4 separate regions of the Homo sapiens genome follow, and all the other regions are linked to region 4. The links come from fine-mapping of genetic effects on gene expression. A gene starts in region 4. Each other region holds a variant in brackets. All regions are shown on one strand. Distances are from middle to middle. Region 1 overlaps NDUFA9 (NADH:ubiquinone oxidoreductase subunit A9). Region 2 overlaps KCNA6-AS1 (KCNA6 antisense RNA 1). Region 3 overlaps KCNA6-AS1 (KCNA6 antisense RNA 1). Region 4 holds the start of GALNT8 (polypeptide N-acetylgalactosaminyltransferase 8).

Evidence for each region.
Region 1: its variant is fine-mapped to the expression of GALNT8 in lung (TOPMed, PIP above 0.99).
Region 2: its variant is fine-mapped to the expression of GALNT8 in whole blood (INTERVAL, PIP above 0.99).
Region 3: its variant is fine-mapped to the expression of GALNT8 in whole blood (INTERVAL, PIP above 0.99).

What each region holds. Positions count from the first base shown.
Region 1 is chr12:4,681,055-4,686,326 of GRCh38, reverse strand. It overlaps NDUFA9 (NADH:ubiquinone oxidoreductase subunit A9), which reads right to left. Exons shown (of 11, transcript NM_005002.5): 9 at 4,027-4,122; 10 at 1,002-1,068. Among named protein-coding and RNA genes, the nearest start is that of NDUFA9, 35 kb to the right of the region's middle. The variant A/G (reference allele first, on the strand shown) is at 3,001.
Region 2 is chr12:4,801,318-4,806,589 of GRCh38, reverse strand. It overlaps KCNA6-AS1 (KCNA6 antisense RNA 1), which reads left to right. Exons shown (of 3, transcript NR_199077.1): 3 at 1-2,105. Among named protein-coding and RNA genes, the nearest start is that of KCNA6, 5.4 kb to the left of the region's middle. The variant C/ACACACACACC (reference allele first, on the strand shown) is at 2,787.
Region 3 is chr12:4,815,905-4,821,176 of GRCh38, reverse strand. All of the region lies in intron 1 of KCNA6-AS1 (KCNA6 antisense RNA 1), which reads left to right. It also overlaps a transcript of KCNA6 not described here. Among named protein-coding and RNA genes, the nearest start is that of KCNA6, 9.2 kb to the right of the region's middle. The variant TGC/C (reference allele first, on the strand shown) is at 2,337.
Region 4 is chr12:4,718,257-4,723,528 of GRCh38, reverse strand. GALNT8 (polypeptide N-acetylgalactosaminyltransferase 8) reads right to left here and starts at 3,129. Exons shown (of 11, transcript NM_017417.2): 1 at 2,641-3,129. The coding sequence starts at 2,851. GAU1 (GALNT8 antisense upstream 1) reads left to right here and starts at 3,427. Exons shown (of 4, transcript NR_110112.1): 1 at 3,427-3,664. RefSeq lists enhancers at 1,021-2,016, 2,017-3,012, 3,013-4,008.

The DNA of each region.
Region 1 (5,272 bases), 37 kb after region 4:
TGAACTGTAAAGTTTGCAAACATCCCAGATTATTATTCAAAACCACATAAATAGAATCCATTTGCACCTAGAGCAGCAGCAATCCCTCATCCTACCCACCTGAAAGTCTGCAATTCTTTTACCAGAGGGCTGTAAGCCAGTCTGCAAACCAAATCCAAAACCTACTCAGGCCACTGTATCAACACTTTCTCAAGTATAAACGTAAGAGACACTTTAGTGTAAGATAAACTGAAGTGTCTGACAACCAGCGATCCTGCCTGATCTTTCATAGACCATGTCTGAAGAAAGTATGTGAGTTGCCCACTTCCACATGTTCCCTAAGCACTACTTTCTCATCTTCTCTACACTTTAGCTTTCAGGCAGCATTCAGGGGACAATTTGGCTACTTCTTGCCAATATATGGTCCATAGGTCTTCCAAGGTAGATGTGGTATTGGTATAGTATTTTTATTTTATTTTGCATCCTCCCTAGAAGCAAATGCACAGGCACATGACATGAGGTCTGAGAACTGACCATTGGATGTGGCAGCAAGGAGACTGGAGATTGTGGATAACCTTGAAAAGAGCAATTTTAGGGGAGAAATGGGAATAAAAGCCTGACTGGAGTAGGTTAAAGAAAGAAGGAAGAAACTGTCAACAGTTTCTTCAGGACGTTAGGAGGAAGTTAGGAGGAGTTAGGATGTGAAGGGACACAACAGGAAAGTAGCTGGAAGAGTGATGGGAGGAAGAGAGGCTTTGGCAGGGGAGCTATTAGGCAATTTTGTGTGTTGACAGGAGTGATCAAGCAGAGAAAGAAACACTGATAATGACGGACAGAAAGTAGGGAGGAGCCGCCCCCTGGAGCAGGGCAGGTGGATGAGCTTCAGCGCTAGTAGAGGGGCTGACTGCAGACAGCAAGAACAGCAAACAGACAAGGGCCGGGAAACAAGCAAGCAGGCAAAGCAAAATAAGTCTAACGCCTCATCATCTGCCCAGGCAGACGCTTTCCACACATGTACTCACCCGCTCCACTTTATCCCTTGTTATCCAGGGCTCAAATGGGCTTATTTCAAAGACTCTTGCTACCCATCTGGAAAGAGAAATACATATAGCACATGTGATAAGCATCTCTCTGCCCAAGATGTAAGCTAGCCTATGAGAACTGCAGGAAGACAGACCGCTGTAGAGCAGTCTGAACTGATTTTTTTTTTTTAAGAAAATAACCACCTCGACCTGTGAGGCTACCTCTGCTTTTTGGTCCATCTCCTCTCAAGCCAACCCAGTCGGCTGCTGTAACTGCTGGTACACTTTGTTCTCCTCCAAAGAAACAACAGATCTTAAACTTAAAATGAAATAAAACCAACAAACAACAAAGCAAACAGAAAAACTCCAGTATTTAATCAAGTCTGTGAAATTCAATTTAATCTAAACCTCAGATATTCAAATATGCTGCCTTTACAGAAGCAGGGCAAGCTGAATGGTGTGTAAAATATACAACGTAACCCCTGAAAGCTGGGGCCCTTGAGGAAAAAAAAAAAAATCCAAAAGCAAGGAGAAGGCTAAAATCTACGGTTCAAATCAGGACGACAATATAAAACCCAAAACGGAAAAGGCCACCTATCTTCATTACTGCCATCTCTTCACTGCTAATGAAAATTGAAGGGCTCCTTACGTGCCACTTGAGCTCCCATCATCAGTTACCTCAGGGCAGTGACTTTTTCTTTTCTTTCCTTGTTTTTGTTCCACAGACAGGGTCTCACTATGTTGTCCAGGCCGGACTCACACTCCCAGGCTCAAGTGATCCTCCCACTTCAGCCTCCCAAGTAGCTGGGACTACAGGTGTACACCACTGTGCCCAGTAGCAGTGGGTTTTCAACTAGCATCTGAGGAACACTAGGAATTTGCTGGGGCCCCACAGAGTCCTGGGGGGCCAAGGGTTTGGGAGTACATGCGTTGAGTATCACCCATCACTGCAACCAGACCAGCTCTTTTATTGGATTTACCCAGCAGGACTTGACGTAAAACTTCAGTGAGCACAGGGTTCCACAGCCGTTTAAAGGCTTGAAAAACAACATTCTAATGCATAGTATAAATAAATGAAAAAGGAAGCTGGCTGGAATTTCTCCAGCAACATATAAAGCCTCAGATTCCTCAACGGCAGAAAAAAATAATTTATTGGGCTAACATAGCTTAATAAAAACACTCATTACAAACCTCTAACTCTCTGTGCCCTCATTCTATGCTAACAGATCACTTCAGGTCTCTATTCTAGTGTCCTCAGTGGGCCATGTCATGGGCATACATAAGCCAACTCTAACTCAATTTTATATACAACCATGAAAGTGCCTCACTGCAATCTGGCTTATATCCCTTTCACGGCACTGAAGCCACGGTCACAATGGTCATTTGTAGACATTTTTTGGTCCTTTATCTTATTTGACTTTTCTGTAAGACTTCATTCTACCAATATTAACAGAGTGCCTAATGTGTACCAGGCATTGTTCTAGGGGCTTGAGATACATGTGAATGAACAGCAATGTTCCCCTTCTTAAAACATCGATTCTCTCCTGAAAACACTCCATTCCCTTTGGTATCTAGAATTCCAAACTCTCATTTCCCACTTAAATGCCTGATCACTTTTTGGCCTTCTTGTAAGTTTCTCTTACTCTGTGGCCTCCTCTTCCACTCACTCCACATACTCTCCTTACTTACTTTATAGATAACTGAGTATTAAAGGAGACAAAGTGAATAGTCTGAAAGGTGTAACACTCAATAAATATCGTTATCACCCTGCATTCTAGTGGTCTATTTTTCTGGTACCCCTGTTAGACCATAAGATTTTTGAGTTTTTGTTGTAACATTCTGACCATAAGATTTTTGAGTGTTTGTTGTAACCTTCTGAGTACCTAGTACATTATCTAAGACATAGTAGGCATTCAATAAACATTTGTTGAATGAATGGATGAAAACCCAAATGAAGATCAGTTTGTGGCACAATGGATGTGACAGTCTCCTTAACCAG[A/G]CCACTAGGGTGTGACATGGTAAGTTCAAGATTTTATTTTATTTGGTTCAAATCAGGACAATATAAAACCTAGGACGAGAAAGGAGCTCCCATCAACAGTTACCTCAGGGCAGTAGGTTTTTCTTTTCTTTCTTTTTTTTTTTTTTGTTCCAGAGACAGGGTCTCACTATGTTGTCCAGGCTGGATTCAAACTCCTGAACTCAAGTGATCCTCCCACCTCAGCCTCCCAAGTAGCTGGGACTATAGGTGTGCACCACTGTGCGCAGTAGCAGTCACCTAGGCTGGAGTGCAGTGGCACAATCTCAGCTCACTGGAAGCCTTGAACTCCCAAGCTCAAGCAATTCTCTTGCATCACCCCACCTCCACCCCAGTAGGTGGGACTACAGGCAGATGCCACCACATCCAGCTAATTTGGTATGTTTTGTAGAGATGGGGCTTCGCTATATTGCCCAGGCTGGTCTCAAACTCCTGGGCTCAAGCAATCTGCCCTCCTTGGCCTCCCAAAGTACTGGGATTATAGGCATGAGCCACCACTCCCAGCCAAGTCAAAGATATTTAACCCACAAAGAGAAGAAGTAAACTAAGAAGCAGGGAAAGAAGAGAAGGCAACCACAAATCCAAGTCTGAATTAGCCTGACTCCTTTCCCCAATAGCATGATCAGGTTGATTTAATAATGAGCGACATGAAACACAGGGGAACCTGACTGCCCCTTACATATGTGCCTAGCAAGATATTTCTCCAAAATTAAACTCGATGGTTTTAAATTGGAGAAAGTGAAGAACTGCATCTTCACTTTTGGGAAGTGGGAAGATTCACTTTTGGGAATTGGGAAGATTTAATGTTCCAATATATTTTTTTTTAACCAACACTAATCTATTTCTGCTTCTTCTCTATGCTAATGTCATAACACTAGGAGATCTGGAGACCAGCCCTTCACACACCCTATAACCCTAAGGGAGAACATTAGGAACAAGTGTGTGGAGCTGGCTTTTTCAGAAGTCACACAAAAGGAGCACTCTACTTACCGATAGGCAAAAAGCGGCAAGGGGAATGGGAGGAACAATCTGTGAGCCACAGCAAAGATGTACTTCACCAGGTGGAAAAGGAGGTACCGACTGGGACTATAAAAAGACAATACACAGTTCTTTCAATTACACGCTTCTCACAAAGTTTCCTTTATAACAAAATAACATTTTCCTTATAAAAAAGGAAACATATATGCACTGTAGTAGATACAGAATAGCACAAAGAAAAATCACCCATAATCCCATTATGAAAGATAGTTAATATATTTGATCTATATCCTTCTCATCCCCTTACATATATACATTATTCTGCTTTTAATAAATACACAATCCATTCTATTCCGTAATGTCTTTTTCATTTAACATTACATCATAATCGTCTTTCCACATCATTATTTTATTGCATGTTTCATGACAACATATTACACTGCATGTAATCACAATTATTTTATCAATTGCCAGTTTTGAGATATTTATGCTATTAAAATTTTTTTCTTTTATAATGTTTTAATGAACATTCTTGTAATAAATATTTGTACTTATCCATGATTACGCATTTAGAATATATTTGTAGAAGTGGAACTGGGTCAATGTAGACTTTAAAATTTTAAGGCTTTTATTGAATACTTCTAAACTGCTTTTCAAAATGGTTCTATCAATTTATATAAAATGTTAAGTATATAACATTTTAGATAATTATATAAATTATAATTATATATATGTAATTATATATAAGAATGCCCCCTCCACCCGAAATGAGTTGTCATAAGAAAATAAAATTTTTGCCAATCTGCTAGGTTAAAAAAAAAAAGGTATCTCATGTTTTAATTATTATGTCTTTAATATGAGAGATCATTTCTTCACGAATTTTTGGTCATTTATACATCTATCTTTTCTTTCCTCCTGGAGTCCCTGTCTATAAAAATAATTTGTAAGAATTCTCTATATTTTAGTGATATTGTTGGAAATACCTTTTATTGTTTGTATTTTAACTTTTAGTGTTATTTACAGTGTTTTGTGCACATAAAATTTTAACTGTTTAATTTAACCAAAACTACTGATTTTCTTTATGGCTTGGATTCATAGTTAGAAAATTCCTCTGCAGTGACATAAATTTCTACATATTTTGTCTAAACCTTATAAAAAAGATTTTTTTTTTACTATAAAGTTCCTTCTGTGACGTATTTTTGTACATTATATAAGGTAAACATGTAATTATATTTTTCCCAAGATGTAAGCCAATTGC
Region 2 (5,272 bases), 83 kb before region 4:
GAGAAGGACAAGCCATTGGCAAATTCATGAATCAGAGTTCTGTTTTTAGTTCTTTTGTGAAATAGACTCATTTCTTAGCTTAAGAAAAACCCTATGCCTAGATCATTCCCCCCAAGCGTATGTTAAGGATGAGTACAATCACACCTTCAGAAATGCCAGTTCCCAGGTGAAGGAAGACACAGCTCCATCCATAAACACTGCCAAGTGGCTTCCAATGGCAGGGGATTTTTCCCCAGCATTCACCAAGCACCAATTTCATGCCAGCACAGATTTTGTTGTTATTTTTTGTTGTTGTATCCAGATTCAGATGTTTGCCATGGTCATAGCAATCATTCATTTATTTAAAAAGTATATATTGAGCAGCTACTGAGTGCCAGCATGGTGCCAGGTGCTGAGGATTTAGCAGTGATCTATACAAAATATCTGCTTTGATAAGCATACATTTTCATGTAATAAATTACATTATAGACAGAAAATTTTAACAGTAGACAATAAGGAAAATAATTCCATATTGCAGTAAATGCCTTGAGGAGGATAAATGGGATGCCATGTCAGAAATGAACTTGGGGACTCAACTTTGCAAGGGTAGCTGGAAAAGTTCCCTCTGAAGAGGTAGTATTTCAACTGACAATCCAAAGAGGAGAATGGAGCCTGGCACGGTGGCTCATGCCTGTAATCCCAGCACTTTGGGAGGCTGAGGCAGGTGGATCACCTGAGGTTAGGAGTTCAAGACCAGTCTGACCAACATGGCAAAACTCTGTCTCTACTAAAAATGCAAAAATTATCTGGGCATGGTGGAGGGCACGTGTAGTCCCAGCTACTTGGGAGGTTGAGGCAGGAGGATCGCTTTAACCTGGGAGGTGGAGGTTGCAGTGAGCCGAGATTGTACCACTGCACTCCAGCCTGGGTGACAGAGGGAGATTCTGTCTCAAAAATAGATAAGAGAATGGGGCCACAGTGCCAAATGCAGGGAAGAGCATTCCAGACTGACAAGTGCAAAAGCCCTGAGCTAGAAAGGTCATGGGTGTTCAAGGTCAAAAAGAAGGCCGTGCGCTGGGAGGAGAATGGGCAAGGGAAAGGGAGGTGCAAGATAAGATTGAAGAATTAGCAAGGGTACCATCTTATAGGGTGAGGTGTTCAGGTTTTATCTTAAGGGCGGTATGAAGCCAATGATGGTTTTCAAGCAGAGGAGAGACGTGATGTGATTTACTTAGAGGCTGGGAGGGGAATGAATTATGAAGAGGTAGAAGAAGAAATAGAAAGACCAGGAAATTGCAGTCGTCTGGGGAAAAGATGATGGTGACTTGGGCCAGAGAAAGGTAGAGTCAGTAGAGATAGAGTGGAGAGGAGGTGAGGAGAACTGAGGAGGTATGTTTAGATGATAGAATCAGCAGGAATTAGTCATCAATAAAACATGAGAAATAAGCAGCCAATGCCAAGCTCAAGCAACTAGGCAGGTAGGTGTCGCCCTTTACTGAGAAAGGGAAGACAAGGGGTTAAACAAGTTGGGATGCGTCAAGACCTCACCTTTAGATGTTTTACATTGGAGAGGGAAATTATACATGCAAATTAAGACATCAAGGAGGCAGTTATTTATTTAGGTCTGGAATATGAAAAAGAAACTTACGATTTATGAATTTAAGACATCTAGAAATATATACATTCATGGCACCAAGGTCTTCTGCAGAAACAGAATATGGACAACGAGGAGAAATGACCAGGACCAAGTCCTTCACAGCAGTCTTCAATCTACCGGTCAAGGTCAGGAGGAAGGGCAGCCAGCATAGGAGGCTGAGGGGTTGTAGGTGAAGTCAAAGGAAAGCCAAGAGATGGAGAGCTCCTGGAAACCAACAACCAGGACTAGACCCCAGGGGCCCCATCCTCCTGGGCCCACGCTGGCCTTCCAGTGGAACACATGATCTGCAACAGGTCAGGAGTACGTGGGGGGCATCCATGGGAAGAACCACCTAAGAATGGACGTATGTGCCCACAAGATGAGCACAGATAATGTGAAGCATTGTGTGATAACCATTTATATTCTGACCTCTGCCCTAGGTTCTAAAATGTACCTATTCCAGGTATATAAATGACATAAATGATCTGTCTTCCAGGCTTCTTTACATTTTTATTTTGCTGTGTGTGTGTGTGTGTGTGTGTGCACTTGTCATCATTCTGGTAATACGATCCCTGAAGTTTTCCTCTTTCTCTGTGTAACCTCTGAAAATGGTTCTCCTCATGGTCCTGTCACCCACAGGCCCCTGCTCTGAGGACAGGGTGGCGAGTCGTCAGCTCCCTTACCTCTTACTGAGAGAACACAACACTTGTGCACAAGCACGGAACACCCTCCCTAGAATGACCCACCCCACTCTTGAGCTTTCCACTGTGGAATCCAAACCACTCAGAGCCAGTGAGAAGCAGGGGTGATGAGTCTGAGCCCGTGTCCCTCCTCTCACCATCTCACTCTGGGCAAGGCTCTGCCCTCGAGCTTTGGTTCTTCAGCGTGTTCCAAGTGGAAGCTCCTCTGTCCAAACACAGCGTTCTGCCTGGCCCAACTCCCTTCTCTGGTCCCCTCATTCACCCCTTTCCCCAGGGTCTGGGTCATGTTTACTCCTTCTCTTAACCTTCTCCTACTTTTTCTGCTGGAGAGAGAAGACAGCATTGAATCCTGGGGAAGAAGGGGAGAAAAATGGATGACCGGGTAATTCTATACTTTGCAGTCAATTTTTGCTGTTTTCCTTTTGTTCCCCTCCTTCTACACACACACACACACACACACACACACACAC[C/ACACACACACC]AAAAATTTGGTCATCTGAGAGTTACATTAAAAAGAAGTCAGATATCTTGAACTTCGAGGGTTAATTTCCTGCAGTAGCACCCACTGGTTCCACAAACTCATTGATGTTCCCTGCCAACACTTGATAGCACAACGCTTTGACCTGAAGTTCCCTTCTATTCATTTCGTCTCTGGATGCACTGTGGCCATTTCCCTCCTCCTGGGCTTCCCCTGTGGCCAAGTGGATGGAGTCAGGGGGACAAATGAAAACACATGTGCTATACAAAAGCACTATTTATAATTAGCTGCTTAGTCCAATTTTTAATGAGGACGATGATGTCAGTTACAAAGTAGTGATGGTGATGATGATGTTCCATAATTCAGTAGAGAAAAATCTAACAGCTTTCGCTTGGGTGAAGCTGTATATTAGAAAAGAAATGCATTAGACATCTGTGCCACACCAATCAACAGCCTCAGGAAATTACTATCCATGCCAAGAAATAAATCTATAACGAACTCCTTATCCTTTCGGGGAGGATCCCAAGAGAGCTTGTTAGTATCCTAAGTTTGCAGCCTACATCTTCATCCAATTCTCCTCCTGTGATAGTCATTAATGCTGTTTTCCAAATGTCTCCAGCTCTCTACTTTTCAGGAACATGGAGAATTTTACTGTCTCACTCACTTGTGGCTGTGTGGTACCAGGCAAGTAGTTCTGGACAGTGAGTTATAAGCAGAAGTGGTATGTGTCACTTCTGAACCAAAATATTTAATTCCTCATGGGAAAGCCCCCAGAGCTTTCTTCACGCCAGCCACAATGACCAGCTTTGTTCAAGATGGTGGCTGCTCTGTCAGAGTGAGCTGCATTACAGGGTAAGGTGGCAGGAAGCTTGGCCCCCAGCCGAAGCAATAGTAGCATAAGTGAGAAACAAACCCTTATTGCTCTAATCCTCTGGTATTCAGGGATTGATTTCTTCCCATAGCAGAATCAAGTCTACCCAAACTGAAGTAAGAAGCTGCCAAAAGTAAAAAGTTAAAACCTGTGACATGGCCAGGCATGGTGGCTCACACCTGTAATCCCAGCACTTTGGGAGGCCGTGGTGGGCAGATCACAAGGTCAAGAGATCGAGACTATCCCAGCCAACATGGTGAAACCCAATTTCTAAAAATACAAAAATTAGCTGGGTGTGGTGGTACACACTTGTTGTCCCAGCTACACAGGAGGCTAAGGCAGGAGAATCGCTTGAACCTGGGAGGCGGAGGTTGCAGTGAGCTGAGATTGCACCACGGCACTCCAGCCTGGCAACAGAGTGAGACTCCGTCTCAAAAAAATAAATAAATAAAATTTTAAAAATTAAAAAAATACTTGTGACATTGGTTCTGTGGCCAGATGACAGGTATTGAAGAAATTTTATAGGAGGCCATTGCAGGCAATCCATGTTACAAATGGAAAAATATTCTGAAAACTGTCATCTGTGATAACTTAGAAAGCAGATTATATCCCTAAAATCCTGCATATCTAGGAAGATGGTTGAAAAACAGCTTGTTATATTGTATGGTGGCCACTGCTGGCTGCATCTGACAATGTAGTGCAAGATATTGATGAGTTCAGAAAAGATTTGGCCAGAAAGCAGAGATGAAATGGACAGGAGAGAGTCCAGAAATGTGGGGATTTTCAGTGTAGACAGAGACAGCTGCTTCTCATTCCCCAAAGAAGTAAACAAAACTTAAAAGACCTTTATACAAGAAAGACTGATGAGTGCTTCAGCTCATGCCATGGAACAAATCAAGCACAGGGCAGTCATGTCCATTGTCAGTTCCTCTGAATGGAATAAGTCATTTAGGGCAAAAGTTTAATTGAAGTTATGGCTTCAAAAAATCATTCAAACTGGGCAAACTGGCTCAAGTAAGAGCGAGAGAAAAAACAAGACTAAAGCTGTAACATCCCACAAATAATATATATACCCAAATTATTGCTGTTAGGTTCAAGTTGAGAAGAACCATGGCTCCCCCAGGCAAAATACACTTACCTACTCCCTAAGGAAGATAACCCCAAAGTCCTACCCAGTCCTGGTATCAAGCTGAAATGCTAGGTTCTCTAGCAGTGCGTAGTAGTTTTTATATTAAGGAGTGACATGTGCTAGTCTCTACATCAGTTTTGAATATGGATTTCTGCAATTCAGAGACTTAAAAACCCAAAAGACAAATTATCTGCCTCTATCCCATAGCACGACATACAATGGCTCCTTTAGAATAGGATAACAACTGTAACCATAGGTGTGGTTATTGGCTATCAGTACATAGATCTGCCCGAAACACATAGGAAAAAGCCTAAGAAGATTTTCAGACAGTCATCCTGCCAAAGGAACCATGACCTGAACGAAACCATTCACGACTTTTCAAAATGTAATGTACCGTTGGGCCCCTAAATTATCATGGACAAGAAGCCGGCCAAGAAAGCTGCTCAATATCATCTGCAATTCCCATCTCTGATAGGAGCAAGGAGGGCA
Region 3 (5,272 bases), 98 kb before region 4:
CGTTCTTCCTCCTCACCCTGGTCCTGTGATTTGTAAAAGATCTCTGTAACTGACAGTCACTTCTCTTTCTCTATCGGGGCAACAAAGTGCAGGGAAGAGTCTAGAAACTGGTTTCTGCCTCCCAAGGCATCAGAAGTCAGCGTTCCTGGGTAAGATGCTGGCCTTCTGCATCCCTTCTTTCCGCTATAAAATTCAGAAGACTCAGATAACCCCTTGACTTCCTGATTTCCAATCTATGACAGTTTCCTTCTGTCCAGTCACTAAATTTAACAGAAAAAATAAAGCCTTAAGAGGTTAAAGAATCCCTTAATCAGTGAGATTAGAAGCCCAGAGCCTGTACATGAGCCTCTCTTTGTCCAGTGCTAAATACCTTTGGTCTGCACTAGCCCTCAGTCATTAGTCCTCCCTTAAAAATCCAGAAGCTGGTCATCTGGTTCTGGGCTTCTCTAGCTAGGCTCACTGCCTCTGTGCCCTGGAAACTCAGGGGAGGGAAAGATAAAAGTTAAAATCACTTAATTCCATTTTCTATGGGCAGCTCTGCTAAGGAGTTTGGTTGGGTAGAAAATGAAGAGTTATTTTTAAGAGTGTGTGTGTGTGTGTGTGTGTGTGTGTGTGTGTGTGTGTGTGTGTTTAGGTAATCCTTACAGTTCCATTTCCCATGGGAAAATATGCTGGAGTTGGAGTTAGAAAATTTGGGTCCCAGGCACAACTCTGCCCCTAATTTCCTGTGTGATCTTCGGCAAATTATTTCACTTCTCTGCATCAGTCTCCTTCTTCCTAAAGAGGCATTCACTGCCCCCTCCATCTGTGACCCTCTGCAATGCTCCAGGGCCTGAGGGAAGGGTTAAGTGAGAATTCTCATTCTAGTTTGGCTGGAAACAAACTTTGTTAAAATATATACATATTACCAGTATATCCATCCTATTCTTCCAAGATATATTCAGATTATATTTCTGTATATTAAATCACACCGTAAGGGCAATTATTTAAAGAAATTCTGCTGTGAATCCTCTGGGCAAAGAGCCTTCTGGTAAAAATAGCTAGCTATCCTGAGTCTATTTTTTATGTCATATTTCATTTAAATGTTTATTTCAGAGAACAAAACTGCAGTTGGCAGGGACCCTGCCTTTCTCTGACGTGCAGGTAGTTTCGGCCCCACTCTCGGATGGGTGTTTGGTGTCTCTAAGGGTCTCTCTGCTGATTGGCAGTGGGAAGAGCCATGCTTTGCTAAGAGTTTATTTCCTGCTAAACTCTTTCACTGGCTGCCTCTTCTGAATCTCACAGCAACTGTGTAAGGCAAGTGATGTTAGCTTCCTTATTTTGCAGATGACGAAACTGAAGCTCGGTGAGGTTAAATGAGGTACAGCTAATAAACAGTGATTCAGACCAATTCTCCAACTCCCATGGCAGGCAAGCCAGCAAGCTCAGAATCCTCAACCATGAGGGCAGCCACGTCACCTTGCCCTGGGATAGGACCTTTGTTAAGAAGCCGTAGTGGCTGTGGCAGTGAGCTGAGGGTGAAGACAGCAATCTGGCCCGTGCCAAGACCCCTAACAAGAGATGTCATAAATGCTCTTTAGGTGGAGTGAAGGCCAGGGGAGACCCACAAGGGCAGGGGAGCTGGCTTCTTCCAACTACGAGGCCTCCTGTCTCCTCCACCTCAAAGAAGGACAGGAAAGCAGAAACACAGCCACGGGAGATTAAGGGGTACCCCCACCTGCAAAGGGGGCCGTGAAGGTGACTGGGGAAAAGAATGCATGCTGACGGTGAGGACCAGGACAGTGGAAGTTTGAAAGCCACTGGAACAGGGTAGGAAAACTCTGGGCCAGGGGCTGGCTTGTGGGTTCTGTCCCTTCTGCTAACTATAAGACCCTGCATTCTTCCCAAGGAAGAAGGCAGGAGCAGGTGTGTGAGGAAAACTCGAATGCAGTGTCAACCACTGAGAATGTTAAAATGGGAGAGGGAGATCAGTGGCAGTACTGAGAAAGGGATCCATAGAAAGATGTTCCACGTATATATGCTACACACATATAGAATATATAGCACCATATGTGTTTGTGTATATACGTGGGTATATGTATAAGCATGCATGTATGTGCCTGTGCATACGTGTGTATATGTTTGTGTGTGCATATACGTGTGTATACATGTGCATATGTATATTCATGTTTCTGTATATATACGTGTGTGTATATGTGGTTTTGTGTGTGCATATGTGTATATATGTGTATGTGTGTGTTTTTGTGTATGTATGTATGTGTATGTATGTATATATATTTATGTGTGTATATACGTATGTGTGTATATGCATATGTGTGTGTGTGTGTGTGTGTGTG[TGC/C]ACTTTCAGGGACCCATAGGGAACAAAAGCACAGGACACCTGCTGCTGCTCCATCAGAGACAAGCTGGCATGTAAACAGAAGTCTATAAACACATTTAGGAGCTATGGCTTCATTCTTCTTGCCCAATAACAGTTAGACCCTCACTGCATTCCATTCTGTTCCATCTCCCCTGAAGAGGATGAAACACACATTACTGTGTGCCTTTAAAGACATCACAACCCCTCTGAGCTTCAGTTTTCTTATCTGCCAAAGAAAAAAACAAAGCCTAGCCTACCTACTTCATTTCACTGCTGCAGGATGATAATAACAGCTGACATTGTACATTTAAACACTGTACATACATTAATTCATTTAATCCTCAAAACAACCCTATCAGATTGGTACTATTATTATCCTCCATTTGACAGAGAAAGAAACTGAGGCCACAGAACTGTTTCATAACTTGCCCCATGTTACCCAGCAAAGGAGGGATTTGAGCCGCGACGATCAGGCTCCAGCAACTATGCTCTTAAACCCTTTGTTAAATCGCACGATGTCTGAAAGCACTGAACGTGTTTGACAATGTTCTGTAAATGAATAGCACCATTCTTATTCTTGCTAGGACTATTCCCAGTGGGAAGGATGCAACGCAAGGTCAGGATTCCCTAGGTGAGGATAAATCCTGCAACCTCAGATCTGCAGCCCCACTAGCCAGGTGCCACGCTTCCAGTGGCAAGTCCTCCCCGCCCCTCCCAGCTGCAGGACTGTCTTCCTATGTTCTTTTTCAAAGCAGTGTCTCTGCTGCCAAGAGCAGGTTTGTCTGTCTCCTGGAGACAGCGGTTGTCAAGCCCTGAGAGAACAGCAAGCATGTCAAAAATAGCAGCGCCAGCAGACTGCGTGGCTGCAATTTCCTTTTGAAATGTCGCCTTTGCTCTCACCAAAGAGCCAGGGTCTGTCTGCGCTCCTTGCAGCCTGCAGCAGAAGCTGCTTAAGATTCCAAAATGTTTTCCAGGAGGAGGTAAAGTGTATCTGCTGAGGCTCGTGACCGAGGAGTGAGGAATTCTCTTTAGAGTAACAATGATGAGGTTGGAGTTGGATTAAAAAAAAAATTGTAATAAATCCCATCAGGACTAGTCCCCAAACAGGTCAAGTGATAGCCAAGGTTAGACCAGTGCGAATGATACTTCCTGTAGGGTAGGAACCTTTCCTCTTTTGTTCTGAAAATGAGGGAGTCCCTCTCCTATTGTTAATGTGCACCTTCAAACACAGCAGCTGCTTTGATAACCCTTCAAAGGCAGTGGCTGATAGATTTCCACTCCCCCTTTAGGGTACCAGGTGAAGCCAGGGGATGAGGACCAAGAAGACCAAGAGGCAGGGTGAACTATTTTCTCAAGTTCAGAACAAAGGGACATGAAAAACATGACCATTCCCAACCCCACAGAGACTCACTCAAGGCCAGCACAGGAAAGTGGTTCATCAGGAGACCTGGCAAGATGAGAGGCTAAAAGCCCATCTGTCTTTCTTCCCCGCGGCCTATGTCTGGGAAGATCCCTCTCCCTGCCAACTGCCAAGCTCCAGACCCTGTTCTGCCATGAGCTATCTGTGCAACCCAAGGCAAAATATGAAGCGGGATGGAGAGAGGAACTCCTACCACCTAGTAAATGGAATTCTTTTCCTCCCCTAAGTGACTGTGACAAGGTAGGATTGGAGGACACTTTCCTCCCCACTTCCTTCCCATGGCAATAACACACAGTCAAAACCCATGTGAGCCAGGATGGCAGCTCCAGCCAGATTGTCCTGGAAGGACCACGCTCTCTGGGAATCTATCTTGGAATGTATGTTGAGTTGCAGGCAGATAGAAATGCTGCTGCAAGCAAGGGCTCAGCCAGCGGAGAGGAGAAATGACAAGCCACAGGACTGGCTGGTGCATCTGAGGAAAGCACCAAGGAGAGGGAAGGGAGGGTCCAGTGGGCACAAGGCAAAGCAGGCCAAGAGGGGATCAGAGTCTGGGAGAGAATCATTGAAAGGCTCAGTAAGACAAATGAAGGCCGTTACCGTCCACTTCTTTTGTTTACCGGAAGCACCAAAGACTGCTGGGACCTCTTCATAGGGCTGTTAAGCATCAATAACGACTGTAGAGGGACTGTAGGTAGGGGGCCAGGGAAAATAAAACCTTTATGTACCCACAAAAAAAATTTCAAAAAATTCAAAAATAAAATAATAACCATAGTAGATAAATACATAAAACCTTGGGCCCTATGCAATCTCTTAAGGAATTCTGAGTTTACAGGTGCAGGGATTTGGTGGGGTTTTTAGTTTGTGGGAACTTTTCTTGGAGTTTTTTTCTTTTTGCCAGCAAAGTGTAAGTTCCCTGGGCAAGCTCAAGACCGTAGTCCTGTATAATGAATAATGTTCAACATATATATCATAGTTCAGTGCATGCTAATTATGCCCTGCACTTACCCAAAAAATGGCATGACATATCTTTAGAGGAAAAAAAGAAAAAAGAGAAAAGCATGTAACTCTCATAACAATTTGATGTCAAAACGAAGCACACACAGACACACACACACACACACACACACACACACACACACACACACACACACCAGTTCGTGGTATTGTGCATGAATAGCAACGATCGACTGCATATAAGCTCTAAAGTGTCCCCATGTGGCAGAAGAAAAAAACTGTCATTCTATTCTAGATATTGTCTGGTCCATTTTTAGACATGCTAAGCTTCTAGATTTATAGGACCAAACCGTTCTCCCAGCCCAGATGGAAAACTCCCAGATTATTAGACTCGTTGCTTTCTTTTTTTTCACAATTCAATGATTTTGGGGTGCGATTTTTAGAGTTGTATGATTATTACCACAATCCTGCTTCACAGCATTTCTATTATCCCCCAAAACTTATCTGGGGCCAATTGTAATAGCACAACCTTCAACCCCATG
Region 4 (5,272 bases):
GGGTAGAACTCCTGCCATTTTACGGCTTGAGGAGGCTGAGCCAGTGTGATGAGCCTTGGGGATGGGTGAGACAGTCCTGGTGTGGTCTGGGTGCTCTGCCAAATAGTGAGGGTGGTGCTGGGGTCACCACCCTAGGTACACAGGCATCCTCCTGGTGAAGCTGCACCAAGCATATTTGCATGGGCAATGTCCGACCCACCCAGGTAAGCCAGGGCTTGTGGAGCTGATGATCTTCCCTCTGTTTCATCCACTCTCTTGCCCCGTATCACTCTTCCCTTCATCCCTGTCTGCCTGTCTTTTTCTCTCTCTTTCCTAGACACACCCACTCATTTATTCATCTATGGAATTTCGATGTATGAATAGAAATGAGTAGTGAATGAGACGTTCATGGAAACAGCACTTATGAAACTTGCTTTCCATAAAACTGTACCATAATAAAATATGATGAGTCTTATGAAGGAGGACGTGGAAGGTGCTATGGGTGCCTTAGGACTCCTCCTCTCTCCTTTTATTCTCTCCTTCTCTCCCATCACACTTTCCCTTCTTTTCTTCTTGTCTCCATACAAACTCTTTCACTCTCTCTCCCTGGACTCCCTCACTTCTCTGCTCCTTTCCTGTCCCAGCTCTTTTCTCCTCTCTCATCTCCCTTCTCACTCTCCTCGCTCTTTCCCTGATTTCTTCTCTCCCTTCCTTTTTCTCTTCCTGCCTTTCCTTCCACCCATCTCCCAGCCTCACCCTGAACCCTGACAATGCTCAGTTCTCATTTTAAAAGACACTTTCCCCAACTCCAGCCCCATGTGCACACACCTGGGCAGTCACATCCCTGCCCACACATAAAACACCTCCCTATGGGGTTCCAGCATTTGATCCCTGTTACCTGGGAGCAGGGGGAAATTGCTGCTTCCCTTGCTGAAGTTGGATGCACAGGCACATAAAATTCAGAGGCATTAGACTTCCATGGTGAGCCGGAATCACAAACAAACCCCAGAATGTGTTGAAATCTTACCCTTAAGTTTAAATGAGGAGGTTAAAATTTGGCACAGAGCAGTTTATAGATCACCTTCTGCATCTACTTCACAACCCTATTAGGTCAGGTTGATAACTATCACTATTGTTATCATCATCTCCATTTACAGACCAGGAACCTGAGGCTGAGAGAGAGAAGCACTTGCTCAAAGTCACACAACCACAATGGCACATCAGGATTCGATCTTAGGTCCTCTAACAAAGCCCTCATTAGTTCATGAAAGGAGCACACCGCAAAATGGAAGCGAGGCCCTTGCCCCAGAGATTGCCACCTCTCTTCAACAGCCCCTACCACACATAGGCGTGGGGAAAGGAAAGAGAGATCAGATTGTTACTGTGTCTGTGTAGAAAGAACTAGACATAGGAGACTCCATTTTGTTCTGTACTAAGAAAAATTCTTCTGCCTTGAGATGCTGTTAATCTGTAACCGTACCCCCAACCCCGTGCTCCCTGAAACATGTGCTGTGTCGACTCAGGGTTAAATGGATTAAGGGCTATGCAAGATGTGCTTTGTTAAACAGATGCTTGAAGGCAGCATGCTCGTTAAGAGTCATCACCACTCCCTAATCTCAAGTACCCAGGGACACAAAACACTGCGGAAGGCCACAGGGACCTCTGCCTAGGAAAGCCAGGTATTGTCCAAGGTTTCTCCCCATGTGACCATCTGAAATATGGCCTCGTGGGAAGGGAAAGACCTGACTGTCCCCCAGCCCGACACCCGTAAAGGGTCTGTGCTGAGGAGGATTAGTAAAAGAGGAAGGAACGCCTTTCTGCAGTTGAGACAAGAGGAAGGCATCTGTCTCCTGCCCGTCCCTGGGCAATGGAATGTCTCGGTGTAAAACCCGATTGTATATTCCATCTACTGAGATAGGAGAAAACCGCCTTAGGGCTGGAGGTGGGACATGCGGGCAGCAATACTGCTGTTTAAGGCATTGAGATGTTTATGTGTATGCATATCTAAAGCACAGCACTTAATTCTTTACCTTGTCTATGATGCAGAGACCTTTGTTCACGTGTTTATCTGCTGACCTTCTCTCCACTATTATCCTATGACCCTGACACATCCCCCTCTCCGAGAAACACCCAAGAATGATCAATAAATACTAAGGGAACTCAGAGGCTGGCGGGATCCTCCGTATGCTGAACGCTGGTCCCCTGGGCCCCCTTATTTCTCTCTACATACTTTGTTTCTGTGTCTTTTTCTCTTCCAAAGTCTCTCGTTCCACCTAACGAGAAACACCCACAGGTGTGGAGGTGCAACCCACCCCTTCAATAGGCCTAAGGACAGGTCTATGGCCCTTGGGATTCTTATTCTTCTCGTTGCCTGCACATATGTAGATATAATGATAATGCATGTGCACAAGCCCACACACGCATACACACACACATGCTCACCTCCCCCATACTGCTTGCTCTAATTTCCACTTCTACTCACTTCATTCTCAATACCCATCTCCCATTTGAAGGCACAGAATTCAGTGTCAGATGCTTCAATGAGCGACTGAGATGAAAATGTGACCTCTCACCCATTTTTCCTTCCATATCCCTTTTTCCTAAGTGCCCCAAACACACACACCCACACACACACCTTCCAGGTTAGCATTGTAAACTTACTCAGATCCTGCAATTCCACCTCCAAGTGGGAGAGTCTCTTTATCACTGCCCCGTAGCGTTTATTCAGATGTAAAGGAAGCTCCCTGTGGAGACCACCCGTAAACAGGTTTTGTAAAGTCCCCTTGCTAGAAAATACCAGAAGGAGATTGACAGCAATGGCCAGAGTCAGCCCAATGAAGAGGGCTTTGGGGAGTTTCCTCCAAAACATCATCTTCTTCCTGGGGGTCGTCCACTCCCTGTGGGACTGAGTGTGTCACTGCTGGAGCAGGTTAAGAATCAGAACCAGCCTAGCTTTTGTGGGAAAGAGAGTTCTAGGTGCCAGTTGAGTTGGTCTCCCCTGTGTGAGACACCCATGGGAAGCCACGGGTGGCCTCTGAGGAGCAAAGTCTCCTTATTGCCTTCTTTGTCTTTATGCCCCGAGAGGATAACCGCTCAGCGGCTTTCCACAGGTTGCTCAGCGGCTTTCCACAGGTTGCTCAGGGAGATAACACTCCCTTGAAGCAGAGGAGTATAATCAAACATCTTGGCTCCTCCTGAAACCCACTCCCACCCATTTCAGTCATTAAAGATCTTAAGTAGTTTAGACACACGCCTTTGCTCAAGGAAATTCACAGAAACCGCCACTGTTACACATCTTATCGAATGACTCACTGATTAATCCTTTTCCTCATCCCTTCCTCCCCTTCCCATCTGCCCTAAGAACAAAGAGCTTGTAAACCAATAAATTGGGTGGAGCCCAGAGCTCTGGGCCGTGAGCAAGCCTCCAACGCTCTGGTCCCCTGGACCTGCCTTTTAAACGCTTGTTCTGTCTCTTTCTAACTCCTTTGTCTCCGCCGGACTCGGGGTATCCGCTGGGTGGTGTGGGGCTGGTTTCCCCAACAGCTTTCTCTCCACCCAGCTTCATAGATGACACCCTGCCTGCTAGGCCAGATGTTCTCCGGCCAAGAACACTATTATAGCTGCCTGGCTTCTCCCTGAGCAGCGTCAGGTGTGAGGAGTGCGCATGGCAGCTGCCCAGTGACAGGTAAGTCACCTGGACACACCTTGTACTGTCTCAGAAGTCAGAAGAATGCTTGCTCCTGCAGCTAGCTCAGGCTGCCTGGGTGAGAGGCTTTTCTCTATATATGTTTGTTTGATGTTTAATGTTCTCTCTCCCTGGAAAAACCACCTGGGAGACTCTGATAGGGCATGTGAGGTCTGGTCCTGTGGGTATAAGAAGGGGATAAATAGGATGAAGAAGAAATCACGAAGCAAGAAGTCTCTGTACACTTAGATCCTTGCTTTTTTGGAGAGCTGGGATCTAAGATGTCTTTTTACCTAACTCTACAGGGTTTTGGACATAGTAGGTGTGCAACAAATGCTTGTCCCACAAACTTAAGGACAGACTTTCTTGCTAGTTCCTAGGACTTCACTGCCTAGAAGCAGGTGGAGAAGAGCTGGAGGCGGTGCCCGGGGTTGAGCCTCAGGGGATGACTCCGATTCACTGGTCTCTGTCCTTTGCTTGTCCTCTGCACAACTTCATACACTGGGCTTCTGCCCTGCCCCAGCTTCCAGTAACTCCTTTGCCTCCACACCTCACACTTATAATATGTTTTGGACAAATCACCAGTGATCATCATTGTAGAATAAACACATAAAATTGTTCCCCAAGGCTAAAAGTTCAAAGTTCTCAGTCTACTGTCAATCCCGTCAAAATCACAGCTTCCACCCCGGCCTGGCTCTTTGGACTATTTACTACGTCCCAAACACAGCACATGGTGACATGTGCTGAGGCGGACATGTGGATTAAAGGAAAGTAATGTGGCTTTAGGAAAAACAGGATGAAAATGAACAAAATGAAAAGGAATCACTTCTTCTGTTTCGCAGGGATAGAAAATGTCTCCCAGCCTCCCACTTGCAAATTAGACTCAAAACATAAGAAACGCATGATCCAGCCAGGCGCAGTGGCTCACGCCTGTAATCCCAGCACTTTGGGAGGCCGAGGCAGGTGGATCACCTGAGGTCAGGAGTTCAAGACCAGCCTGGCCAACATGGTGAAACGCCATCTCTACTAAAAATAACAAAATTAGCTGGGCATGGTGGCAGGCACCTGTAATCCGAGCGACTTGGGAGGCAGAGGCAGGAAAATCGCTTGAACCCAGGAGGCGGAGGTTGCAGTGAGTCGAGATCGCGCCACTGCACTCCAGCCTGGGCAACAAGAACAAAACTCCATCTCAAACAACAACAACAACAACTACAAAAAACAAACAAACAAAAAAGCATAACCCTTCTGCTTCTGGGACAAGAAGAAATACCTACATTTATCTTCTCTATTCCTTCCCATCAAGGCAAGTAAAAAGTACACATGATATGTAAAACAAACCTAAGAAGACTCTGAAAGGTAGAGAGAACAGGGCAGGCTGACTAGAGATCTCCAGATATCCTAGCTATTGTAGGAAATAGATTCCAAGTTGCTGGATGCTGGAGCAGTCAACAACTTGGAAATGCAATGGGCAGAGACAATAGAAGCCCCAAGAAAAAGCTGCTTTCTCTAACCAAAGAAACAGGAAATGGGAAGCCTAGCAAGACAGAAGATGTTTAGACAACAACTGCCCTACTCCAGCCAAATGCCACTGAAAACCTTGCAGTGCCA